Regions from separate parts of the Homo sapiens genome. Here region 2 is linked to region 1. Evidence: fine-mapped expression QTL. A gene starts in region 1. The other region holds a variant in brackets. All regions are shown on one strand. Distances are between the middles of the regions. Region 1 holds the start of ADGRG1 (adhesion G protein-coupled receptor G1). Region 2 holds the start of LOC105371291 (a long non-coding RNA gene).

Region 1 (5,521 bases):
CAACTTCCCCTCTACTCCTCTGCCCATCCCTCCGCATCATTGCTGGTACAAGTCCCTGGCGTCTAGACCAGGGCTTCTCACACCTCCAATTCTGGAATCCCCTGGGCATCTTATTAAAATACACATTCAGATTCAGCAGGTCTCAGGCTATCTGTAGGTCTGAAGACCACATTTTGAGGGCTAATCAGGCCTCTCCCTACCCAAACATCTTCTCTGGCTCCCCAGTACCTTTGATTTAAGCCCAAACTCTACACTTTCAAAATCTTCCAGAATCTGCCCCTTGCTGCCCAGTTAGATCCCACTTCCTTCCAAGCATGGCTCCATGCCCTACCTCTCCACCTCAGCCAATGCTGTTCCCTCTGCCTGGGGTGCCCTTCCTGCTGGTCTCTGTTTATCGAAGCCCCCTTCTTCTCCTTCAGGTCCCAGCAGGGGCTCTGGGGTCTACACGCTTAGTTCAGATCCTGGCTGTTATAGAAAGGCGTGGGTAGCCCTCCCTGTACCTCGGTTCCCCTTCTGTAAAGTGGGGATAGACTGTTGTGAGAACAGAAGGAGAAGATGAAGTGCCTAGCAGGGGCCGGATATCTGGTGTCCCGTGTTTGGTTACAGCCCACACACCTGGAGGCCCAGCCAGGTCCAAGCTGTGCGACCTTGGCTAAGTTACTTCATGTCTCTGACCATCTCTAACATACAAGTGGTACCCAACCCACAGGGTTGTGTGGATAAAATGAGAATGATCTGTACAAGCAGAGCATCTTACACCATAAAACCTCCAGACATAGCAGGTGATTATTAGTCCTGTTATCAGCACTCATAACAGATAGTGTTGTGTTTAACAAGTCATTGAATTTCTCCCCCTTTACTCCCAGAGACCCCTGGATGCTGAATACCAACTCCAGGTATCGCTACTATGAGAACCAGGCTTGTCTCTCTAGCCAGACTCAGAGCTGGGGGCCTGCTTCCTCACCTGCCTGCCCCTAGCTCATAGTAGGTCTCTGCAAAGTCCGACGGTGAGAGAGGCAGGCAGAGCTGGGCAGCCAACTCCGCCCAGCCAGGCAGCCCCATAAGCCTCTCCTATGTGGCCAGAGTGGCAGCTGGCTCCGCACTCTCTTCAGCCATCTGCAGAGAGAGTGGTGCCTTCAACTCTCCATCTGTGCCCTTCTGGTCAGCACGCTCTGTGGGGTGTGTGTGTGGTGGTGGTGGTGGGGGGACAGCTGCCCTGTGGGCCTGGTCCCTGGGGAACAGCTGAGGCTGCCCGGGTTACCAGTTGATCAGGCCCTGAAGGACTGACCTTGGGGAAACTGAGGCAGAGGTGGTGGTATGTCAGGGACAACCCATCCTCCCCTAGATAACTCACTTGTCCTCCCTTGTTAGTGGGCCCCCAGTGTAGGCTGGCCTCTGCTGCTTTGGCAATAAGGGAGTTCCCACTGCAGCCCCGGGAGAGAGCAGAGGGTATGACATGGGCCCAGTCCCCACTGTGCCTCCCTGCCCCAGGTATTGGCCCACAGCCTGGACTGGGGACTGTGAATGTGGGAAGCACAGTGCCGTTTTCTGGAAGCTCTCACCTTATGGCCTCCCTGCACCCCACGGGGTGGCTTTGTGGCCCTTCCTTTCTGCAGCTTGATTTCAAGCAGGTAGGTGAGGAGTGCAGTTCACCTGCAGCAGCCCTGGCTCCTAGGCTGCCCGAGACGTTCCATTCATTCTTCCTCCACGTGGCATGGGGAAGCTTTTCCTGGCCCCCTTGTTTAGAAGGCAGATCTCTACCGGAGAGAAGGAATCTCAAGTTCCCCAAGCATCCACGTGTCCAGGCCCCAGGCTGAGGCCTGGGGTGCTGGATTGCTGAGTGGTTAGGAGACCCGCTATGGAGCCAGACGGCCTGTGCTCCCGCCATCCCAACTCGGGCACCTCCCTGCTGTGTGATCTTGGGCAGGTTAATTCTCATCTCTGAGCTACATGTATCTGCCTTAAGCTCCCTCTTCTTCATCACCACATTCACAGGGAGTATTTATTGAGGGCTTGGCAAGTACCAGGCACTGGTCTGAGTAGCAGGTTTGACTTCTCTCCACTGCCAGGGGCGCTCTGGAGCTGGAATGCAGACGGTGGTCAGCGAGTGTAATTACTGTTATTGTCACCACTCACCCTTCTGGCATTGTAAAAGCCTCCCAGCACATCTGACTGAGGAATCATCTATCCTCATTGCTCGGAGGAGGAGGGCAGACAGGAGCCTCTGCAGGGAGTGTGAGTTATCCAAAGCCTCCTGACTCGAGAAGGGCACTGAACCCCAGCAGCGGGAGGTGCTGCTGACAGAGGAATGACCAGAAGGGGGATGGGGCATGGTCCATTTCCACACTTCTCTGTCTGAGCTTTTGGGGCCACTGGGAATGGCTCTTCACCCAGGCCTCGGTTTCCCCTTTGGCTCAGCAGATGGATTAAAGGAGGCCGTTTCCAGAAGCCCCTGGGGTCTCAGAATCCAAAATGACTTGGGATGTTGAAACTGTGGGTGCTTGAGGAGCACTGAGAGGGGAGACGGGTCACCCCCCGGGGGGACGCAGGTCAGCCGGTCAGTCGTGCGTGGCCTGGCTGGCCTCCTGCCCGGCTGCCTGTCACCCGCTCCCTCCCGACTGCCTTCCGCTCTGCCGGTCAGCACTGGCTCCCGTCGGCTGCCAAGGAGGCTGGACTCTCCTTCAGGAAAGGGCAGTTGTCGCCCTGACCTGGGGGGTGGGCGGACAGCATCCAAGGGCCCTGTTGCCGTGGCAACCCCGGCCTCTCTGTGGGAACTTTGGGGAGACTGGCCCTGGGAGGCGACAGATGGAGGCTGAGGAAGCAGAGTGATCCCCGGCCCCTTCCTGTCCCTGAACACTGTCTGCCTGGATGAGGGGTGAGGCTGAGGTGCCCCCTTGCCCGGCGCTGAGTCATGGGCATCCCCCAGGATCACTGCCTCAGCGCTCTCAGCCCTGCCCCCTCCTGGTCTCCCTCTGAGAAATCCATGACTCACATATATCGTCCGTCATCCCCAGTCAAGCTCAGGGAGGAGGGAGGAGCCCAGCTGGGGCAGGAGAGGGGTGTCTCCCCACCAAACAAACCCGGTCCCTCCCTCTCCGCACTAGCTGTCTGCCCTGCCCTGCCGTAGGAGATGGGCTGGGAGCCTCCCACGCTCTCCAGCTCACTCGGCAGGCAGCGGGGACCAGGGCTGGCAGGTTAAGCCTCTGGGGGTGGATCCTGAAAGGTGGTCCAGCCGCCTGGCCCTGCGTGGGACCCTCCACCTGGCAGCAGGTACCCAAACAAGGGCTGGACAGCAGGTGGGAAGGGGAATAGTGTGAGTGTGAGAGTGTGAGTGTGTGAGCGTGAGTGTGTGAGAGTGTGAGTGTGTGAGTGTGAGTGTGTGAGAGTGAGTGTGAGTGTGAGTGTGAGCGTGAGAGTGTGAGAGTGTGTGAGTGTGAGTGTGTGAGAGTGAGTGAGAATGTGAGTGTGAGTGTGAGAGTGTGACTGAGCGTTTGAGTGTGAGAGTGTGAGTGAGTGTGTGTGAGTATGAGTGTGAGTGTGAGTGTGGGAGTGTATGTGAGTGTAAGTGTGGATGTGTGCATCCGTGCACGGGTGGCTGTTGGACAGTGGGTAGGGATGGTGGTGAAATGGGGAAATGGGGGGGTCTTGGTATCTTGGTGGGATCTAGTCCAGGTCAGCATGGCTGTGGGTGGGTCTCTAGAGTGGGGGCGGACCCACAAGGAGATGCCTGGGAGGGGACTGGGGCCCAAGGGGAGCGACACCTCCCGGGGCTCCCAGGCATTTTGTTGCTGGAGAAACTGAGGCTCAGAGTGGTACAGTCACTGGGCCCAGCAAGCTGGGGTCTGCTCTTTAGGCTGTGAGATCAGTGCTCCTACTACACAGATGGGAGAACCGAGGCTCTGGGAGGGCAGGTGGCTTGCCCAAGGTCACCTAGCACATCCAGGTATAGAAAGCCAGGGGCCAGGCTCAGGGAGGGGGTGGCACTTGAGGGAACTCCTGAGGACAGCTTTCCTGCAGCTGTCCCTGGGGCTGGGTCCGGGGTCCCCACTGAGCAAGGGACAGCCGTGCTCTTCATCACCAAGGCCAGCTTTGGGAGAAGGTGGCCCCGCAGGGTCTCTGAACGTGGGCCACGTGGGTGAGAGTCCTGGAACCGGTGACAGGCAGACGGGGAAGCGCAGGCTGCGGGCTGAACACCCTGCCCGTTGCCACCAGACCTCAGGGCTCCATCTGCCTGGCACTGATAGGACTTCCCACCCTGGTCCCCGCGGGGGCTGGGAGTGTGTAGGAAACCAATGATTCCTGTCCTCCCCCGTCCCCAACCCACCTCCCCTGCGTGGTAGAGTTGGGGTCTCCCTGTGCCCCACTGGGAGAGGTCTGATGTTCATTTTACTGCGTAGGGAGGAGGGGATGGGTCAAGGCAGGGGCCTCCCACCCCCACCAATGTGGAGCAGTTGTAGCCTGGGGTCCACGGGCTGTGTAGGAATAGCCTTTGTTGCTCCTTCAGTGGACCAAGAAAGTTATTTATAGAAGCATTTATTGAGCGCTTACTGTGCACTCTGTGCTCTGTCGGGAACATGGCCGTGGGTGAGGCAAATAAGGTATCTCAGAACTCGTGAGTGGCCCAGACCCAGAGCCAAGCCCCCTGCCCCTCCCAGAGGATAGCCCCGGGCAGCCTGTTGGCTCCTTGGGGTCAGAGACTGTGTGAGAAGGAGCATATCTGGGCATTAATAACCATGGGCTGCCAAGTTGGCTCCCCAGAGCCCAGGCAGGGGTCCTGTTGGGCTCTTTCCTGCCAATGTCCAGGTGTGGAATGAGCTCTTAGGGCCAGACCTGACCCCTTCTTTGCTGCAGGGACCCGAGATATGCACCCACCTTGGTCACAGCATCACTGTGGCCCCCTTGCCCTTCCTCTCCTCTCGCCTCAGGAGCTCAGCTGCTAAATGGGTGTGTAGGGGTGATCACAGCTGCCCTGGCTCCCGTAGGCCTGGGGCTTGGCTCCGAGAGTGTCGGGTGATGGAGAACGCCGCTCCAGGTGTGATCTGTGACGGACAGGCTGTGTCCCGGCCTGGGCCACTGGGCAAGGGCCAGTCAGCCTGGTGTGACACTTCCTTTTGTCAGGGATACAAACAAACAAACAACAGTTAGGAGGTGAGATGGAGGCGTGAGATAAGCTTGCTAACAGAGGGCCCAGAGAAGGGGAAGAGGACCAGGGAGCCTCTGCGGAAGGCACTTAGGCTGGGCTTGGGAGAAGGTGGGAGGGGAAGGGACTGATGTCTGTATGAGCACTGTAGGGGGAGTCCTAGTGGAGGAAACTACTTAGGAAAACATTTGGGGAACGATACAAGCTGGGGACCACGGGGAGGGTGATACCGGACCCCTGGCATGGGTCATTTCATGGGACTTGATGAGCCAGGCCAGCAGGTCTCAATCTGCTCTGTGGGGGGGAAGAGAGGCAGGAGGACTCGCCAGGCAGGTGCTGTGTGGGGCTGGGGGCCCAGGCTGCAAACCCAGCAGGACGGGG
Region 2 (5,000 bases), 21 kb before region 1:
CAGAGTGAGACTCCGTCTCAAAACAAAACAAAACAAAACAAAACAAACAAAGAAACCATGTTTCTGGCATTTTTATAATTTGTAAGATGGTGTTAACTATATGGTTATTGGCTAGAAATCCTGAGTTATCAACTGTATATGTCCATAGTTTGTAAAAAGAATAAAACAACTGAGGCAAGCTCTTGATGCTTCTTGTCTGGCATTGAGGCTGTGGGGAAGGTGCCTTTTGGAGGGGCCATAGCTGAGGGCATGCACCGTGACGCTGGACCGGTTCACTGTGCAGTGGGCATTCATTTAGCTTCAAGTTGTCTTGTTTCTGTATGTGGTGACAGCTTTCTGCTGCCATTCTTAGCTAAAGGCAAAGATGGGGGGGTCAGCTGGCATGAGAAGTGTTTAGTTTTTGTTTTGTTTTTTAGTTAAGTGTGGTGGTTTTTAAACTGTAGAACTCTTCATTGTCACTAAAGCAAAGAGTCACTGCAATGAAAATTCAGGAACCTTCTGTCCTTAAACACGATTTGCAACATTCTGTTATTTTTTTTGTATGTTTAGAATGCTGAAATGTTTTTGAAGTTAAATAAACAGTATTACTTTTTTTTAAGTTGGATAAAGGATATAAACATTTGTTTCACAGGAGAAGAAAGAAAAATGGATGATGAAGTTATGAAAAGATGCTCGGTTCCACTCAGAATTACAATAGGCACACTAAAACAATTTTTTGCCCATCTAGAGAGATCACCTCCACATTGGAATGGATATGGTGGGACTCTAAATTGGTACTACTTTTTAAGGGGGCAATTTAGCAGTGTCTATACCTTTTTTTTTTTTTTTTTGACAGGGTCTTGCTCTGTCACCCAGGCTGAAATGCAGTGGTGCCATCATGCTCACTGCAGCCTTGACCTCCCCGGCTCAAGTATCTGTACAATTTTTAATTGCACAATTCTATAACCTAGTAATCCCTCTTTTAGGTATCTTTCCTTTAGAAATAGCCACACATGTGCCAAAATATATATGTTAATTACTGCAAAGTGTATTACACTAAAAAATAGGACCCCTTAATTTCCTTCAATAGAGGGTTATGGCTAAATAATTTTACATTCTATGCAATGGAATTCTTGTACTAATGAAAAAGAATGAGATGGAACTATACATTCTAAGCAGAAATGATATCCATTATAACTTGGCAAGAGAAAGAAAAGCGAGTTGCAAACACTGTGTATAGCATACTAATTCTATTTTTGTAAAACAATTGCATATATGAGTTACAGGGATATATAATAATCATGTCTCACAATTACTGAATGTTTACTGTGTAAACCAGGAGCATTGAATTATTATTACTCCCATTCTACATATGAGAAAACAGGAACAGAGTGGTTAAGTAATTTGCCCAAGGCGGCACAGCTGGTAAGTTACAGAGCAAGGATTTGAACTCTGGCAGCCCAACTCCACAGTCTGAGCACTTAACCCTATACATGGCCTTATAGGCCAAAAATACTTCTGTTAACAGGGATGACCTGGAAAATCAAGAGTGGAGGGGCAGAGTCACTTTTTAATAAATACTTCTAAATAGACATTAAAAAACACGAACTGGTAAAAAGGACTTATAGTGAAAAGCCCATTTCCTGCAAGCCCCCTCCCCAGAGGCAACCACTTCTAATAGTTCGAGCTCATGTGGCAGTTACCTCCAGAGCCATAAATAACATGCTTCTACTGCCATTTCCTGATTTATTAACCTTGGACATTATCTGTTGACTTCTGCAAACACTCAGAAAAGGAAAAATCAGCTTACCTTTTTTCTCCTTTCTTCTTGTTATGTTGCTTCTTGATAACAGGGCTGTTTGCTGCCACTGGCTCTGGTCTAGACCCTGGGCTGGACACTCGACTGCACAGTTGCCAAGACTAGGCCCACTGAGGTTCAAGACAAAAAAAGGACTTGCCCAAAGTCACTGTGAGTTGGTGTTGGAGGTGGCACCCGGCTCCTGGTCTGCATGGCTCCAGGGCCGGGCTGTCTCTGTGATACCCTTTGGCCCACCCTGAGAGTGACTCT[T/G]GTGCCACCCCTGGCCCACGCGGGCCTCTCTCACTCTGGCAGAGGCTTAGCATGGCTGGGGTGGGTGGCCCTGGCTGGGTTCCTGCTGAGGGCTGGCTGAGGCCTCCTGCTCAGGCAGGGGCAGGCATATTTGCAGAGCAGCAGGTGCAGCCTCCCAGTGTTTGGCCAGCCAAGGGTTTTATTCTCCAACACTGCCAGACCTAGACTTTGACCCTCAGGGACTTCTACACAGCTGGCCTTCCAGATCACTGCCCCCATAGCCTCTATATCTCCAGGGGAAAGGCTGAGCCAGTGGCTGAGACTGGCAAAGTGCCGAGCACCAGATACCCAGGACCCTTAGGGCGAAACCACCAGACTCACATGCCCCAACCCTGCAGTCGCCTGGGGCCATCGGGCGGGTGTGGGGGTGGGGGTGTATAGGGGTAGAAGGAGCTTTAAAAAATTACCAGTGCTGGCCAGGCATGGTGGCTCATGCCTGTTATCCCAGCACTTTGGGAGGAATAGGCGGGCGGATCACTTCAGGTCAGGAGTTTGAGACCAGCATGGTCAACATGGTGAAACCCTGTCTCTACTGAAAATACAAAAATTAGCCAGGCGTGGTGGCGCATGCCTGTAATCCCAGCTACTCGGGAAGCTGAGGCAGGAGAATCACTGGAACTTGGGAAGCGGAGGTTGCAGTGAGCTGAGATGGCACCATTGCGCTCCAGCCTGGGTGACAGAGCGAGACTCCATCTCAAAAAAAAAAAAGGATGTCCTGAAGGCCTCTTCAGCCCAGAGAGACATGGGCTTGCGGGCTGGGGGCAGACAACAAAGAAACACGGGGTTGGGGTGCAAGCCTGGGACTTGTAGGGGCCCCTAGCAGTGAAGAAAGGCTTTGCCTAGCACACGGTGGCCCCTGAGAGGATGCGGGTGGCACCGTCCCCACCCTTGTAGTCCCTTTTCCCAGACATGAGCTCCTGGCAGCTTTATTTGGGGTAGAAGAAGGGTCCTATTTATGCTGTGTCTGCATTTAGAGAGGCTGTTCACTCATTAAGTTACAGACTCTCCACCTTTCTGAACCTTGGTCTCCCCATCTGTAAAATAGGTATATGGTCAGGAATGGGGGTGGGAATTGAGGATTGTGGGAGCCTTCTGGCTTTAAAATTATGAGCCCTGAGGAAGATCCCTGAAAGAGCCTGTGCTAGGTAGGTTATGACTTTGGCTGCTGTAACAAACTCAAGAGTAAGAACCCATATAAACAAGAAGCCGTTTACTTCCATCCCATGCGAGGGACCAGGCTGCACGGTGGCTGTGGTGGCTCCTGGACTTTGGGCACTCATACCCCTTCCCTTTTTGCTCCTCCAAAAGGGTGCACCTCTTTTTTTTTTTTTAAGAGCATGATGCAAGATTTGCAGACTTTACTGATGGCTGCATCCTATTGTTCAGAACTTGGTCATGTGGCCACCCAGTTCCAAGGAATGTTAGGTAATAATGTCTTTATTGTAGGGGGCCATGAACCCAGCGAAAATATGGGGTTCTATTGGTATAGAAAGGGGAGGTGGATATTGAGGAACACTTACAGCTTCTGACATGGAATCTAGAGGTTGCTTGCTGGAGGCCCCGAGGGTGAGATCTAGCCTTAGATAGGCTTTGTTTGGCTTATGACAGGCTTTAAATCCATTTGAATTCATCCCCAACTTATAACAATTAAGATTTTCACATTAATTTCAAATTTCTGGCTTCCTTGAAAAAACTGAAGGATCAGGCCACATGGGGCTCATATTTCCTCAAGTGACAGTTCACTGGAGCTGGGCAGTGCTCCCCAGCGTGGCCCATACTCTCCAGTTCACCCCAGGTCCCCCCACTCCCTATTGTCTCCCACCCTGCCCCCTTCCTGCTCTCATTAGCTTTGCAGCCTGGCCGCTGTGGGCACTGTAGTTTGTGACTCTTGGCCCAGCATAGCCACCAGCTTCTATAAACAAGGAAATTGAGGCACAGAGAAAAAAAGAGACTTGCCCAAGGTCACCCGGTGAGCCTGGACAGAGCTGGGACTGCAGCTGCCGCCTGCACACTCAGCCTCAGCGTATTTTCTGCCGCACTGGTCACTTGAGGATCACCTGGGTGCCCATGTACTCAGGAGAAAGGATGGCCCAATGGTTAAGCCATTAGGTGCTGGAATCTGATGGGTCTGGGTTTGAATTTTGGCTCTGTCACTTTTCAGGGCAAGTAACATCAGCTCTCTGAGCCTTATTCTTTTTCTTTTTTTCTTCCTTTCTTTTTTTTTTTTTTTTCCTTTTTTGGACAACGAAATGGGATAATAATAGAGATTGCCTAATAGAATCACATGAAGATTAAAGTGAGGTGCAGGGCCATTGGCACTGACGGTGGGCACCTCCTTAAATGTTACACCCTAAGTATTTTGCTCATTCCAGCCTGCACAAGAAATCCTAATTCCTGGGACAGGAATTCAGAGACAAGTGGAAAAGCAGAGGGCTTTATCCCCATGCAACTGGGGGATGTGGCTGACCCTTCTGTGCGATGCAGCTCGGTTTCCTCCCTGTGGGGCCACAGCAGCCCCAAATTGCTGAGATCAGTCTGCATGGCAAATAGAATCTGTGTCAAGCTGCAGAGGTGGACCTGAGCCATTCTGTGTCGGGCTGTGCCGGAAACAAAAACACCTTCTCTGTCTTAGGAGCTGCGCCCACCTGCCCTCTCTTTCTTCAGCAGCCAGAGCTGCCTGCTCGGGTGTTAGTTCTGGCATGACTTGGCGTAACCTCAGGGAGGCACCACTGCGTCTCCTGTCAGCTCTTCTAAAGCTATGCCTCCGAGTATGGCGTGCTTTGGGGCCAGCTGTGACAGCTGGGGAGCAGCCCTATGCACCCCCACTACAGTCCAACATTTGGTTTCAGATTCTATTTATATACATTATGTACCTAGATACTTGTGGGTTTGATTTGGTTTTGTTTTGATTGCA

What was found. PIP is the estimated chance that this variant, and not a neighbour inherited with it, causes the effect.
Region 2: its variant is fine-mapped to the expression of ADGRG1 in whole blood (TOPMed, PIP above 0.99).

The regions. Positions count from the first base shown.
Region 1 is chr16:57,625,533-57,631,053 of GRCh38, forward strand. ADGRG1 (adhesion G protein-coupled receptor G1) reads left to right here and starts at 3,098. Exons shown (of 14, transcript NM_201525.4): 1 at 3,098-3,270. RefSeq lists enhancers at 2,279-2,934, 2,935-3,590 and a silencer at 3,140-3,209.
Region 2 is chr16:57,604,939-57,609,938 of GRCh38, forward strand. LOC105371291 (a long non-coding RNA gene) reads right to left here and starts at 2,084. Exons shown (of 4, transcript XR_933627.4): 1 at 1,790-2,084. It also overlaps the pseudogene HMGB3P32. RefSeq lists an enhancer at 4,909-5,000. The variant T/G (reference allele first, on the strand shown) is at 2,048.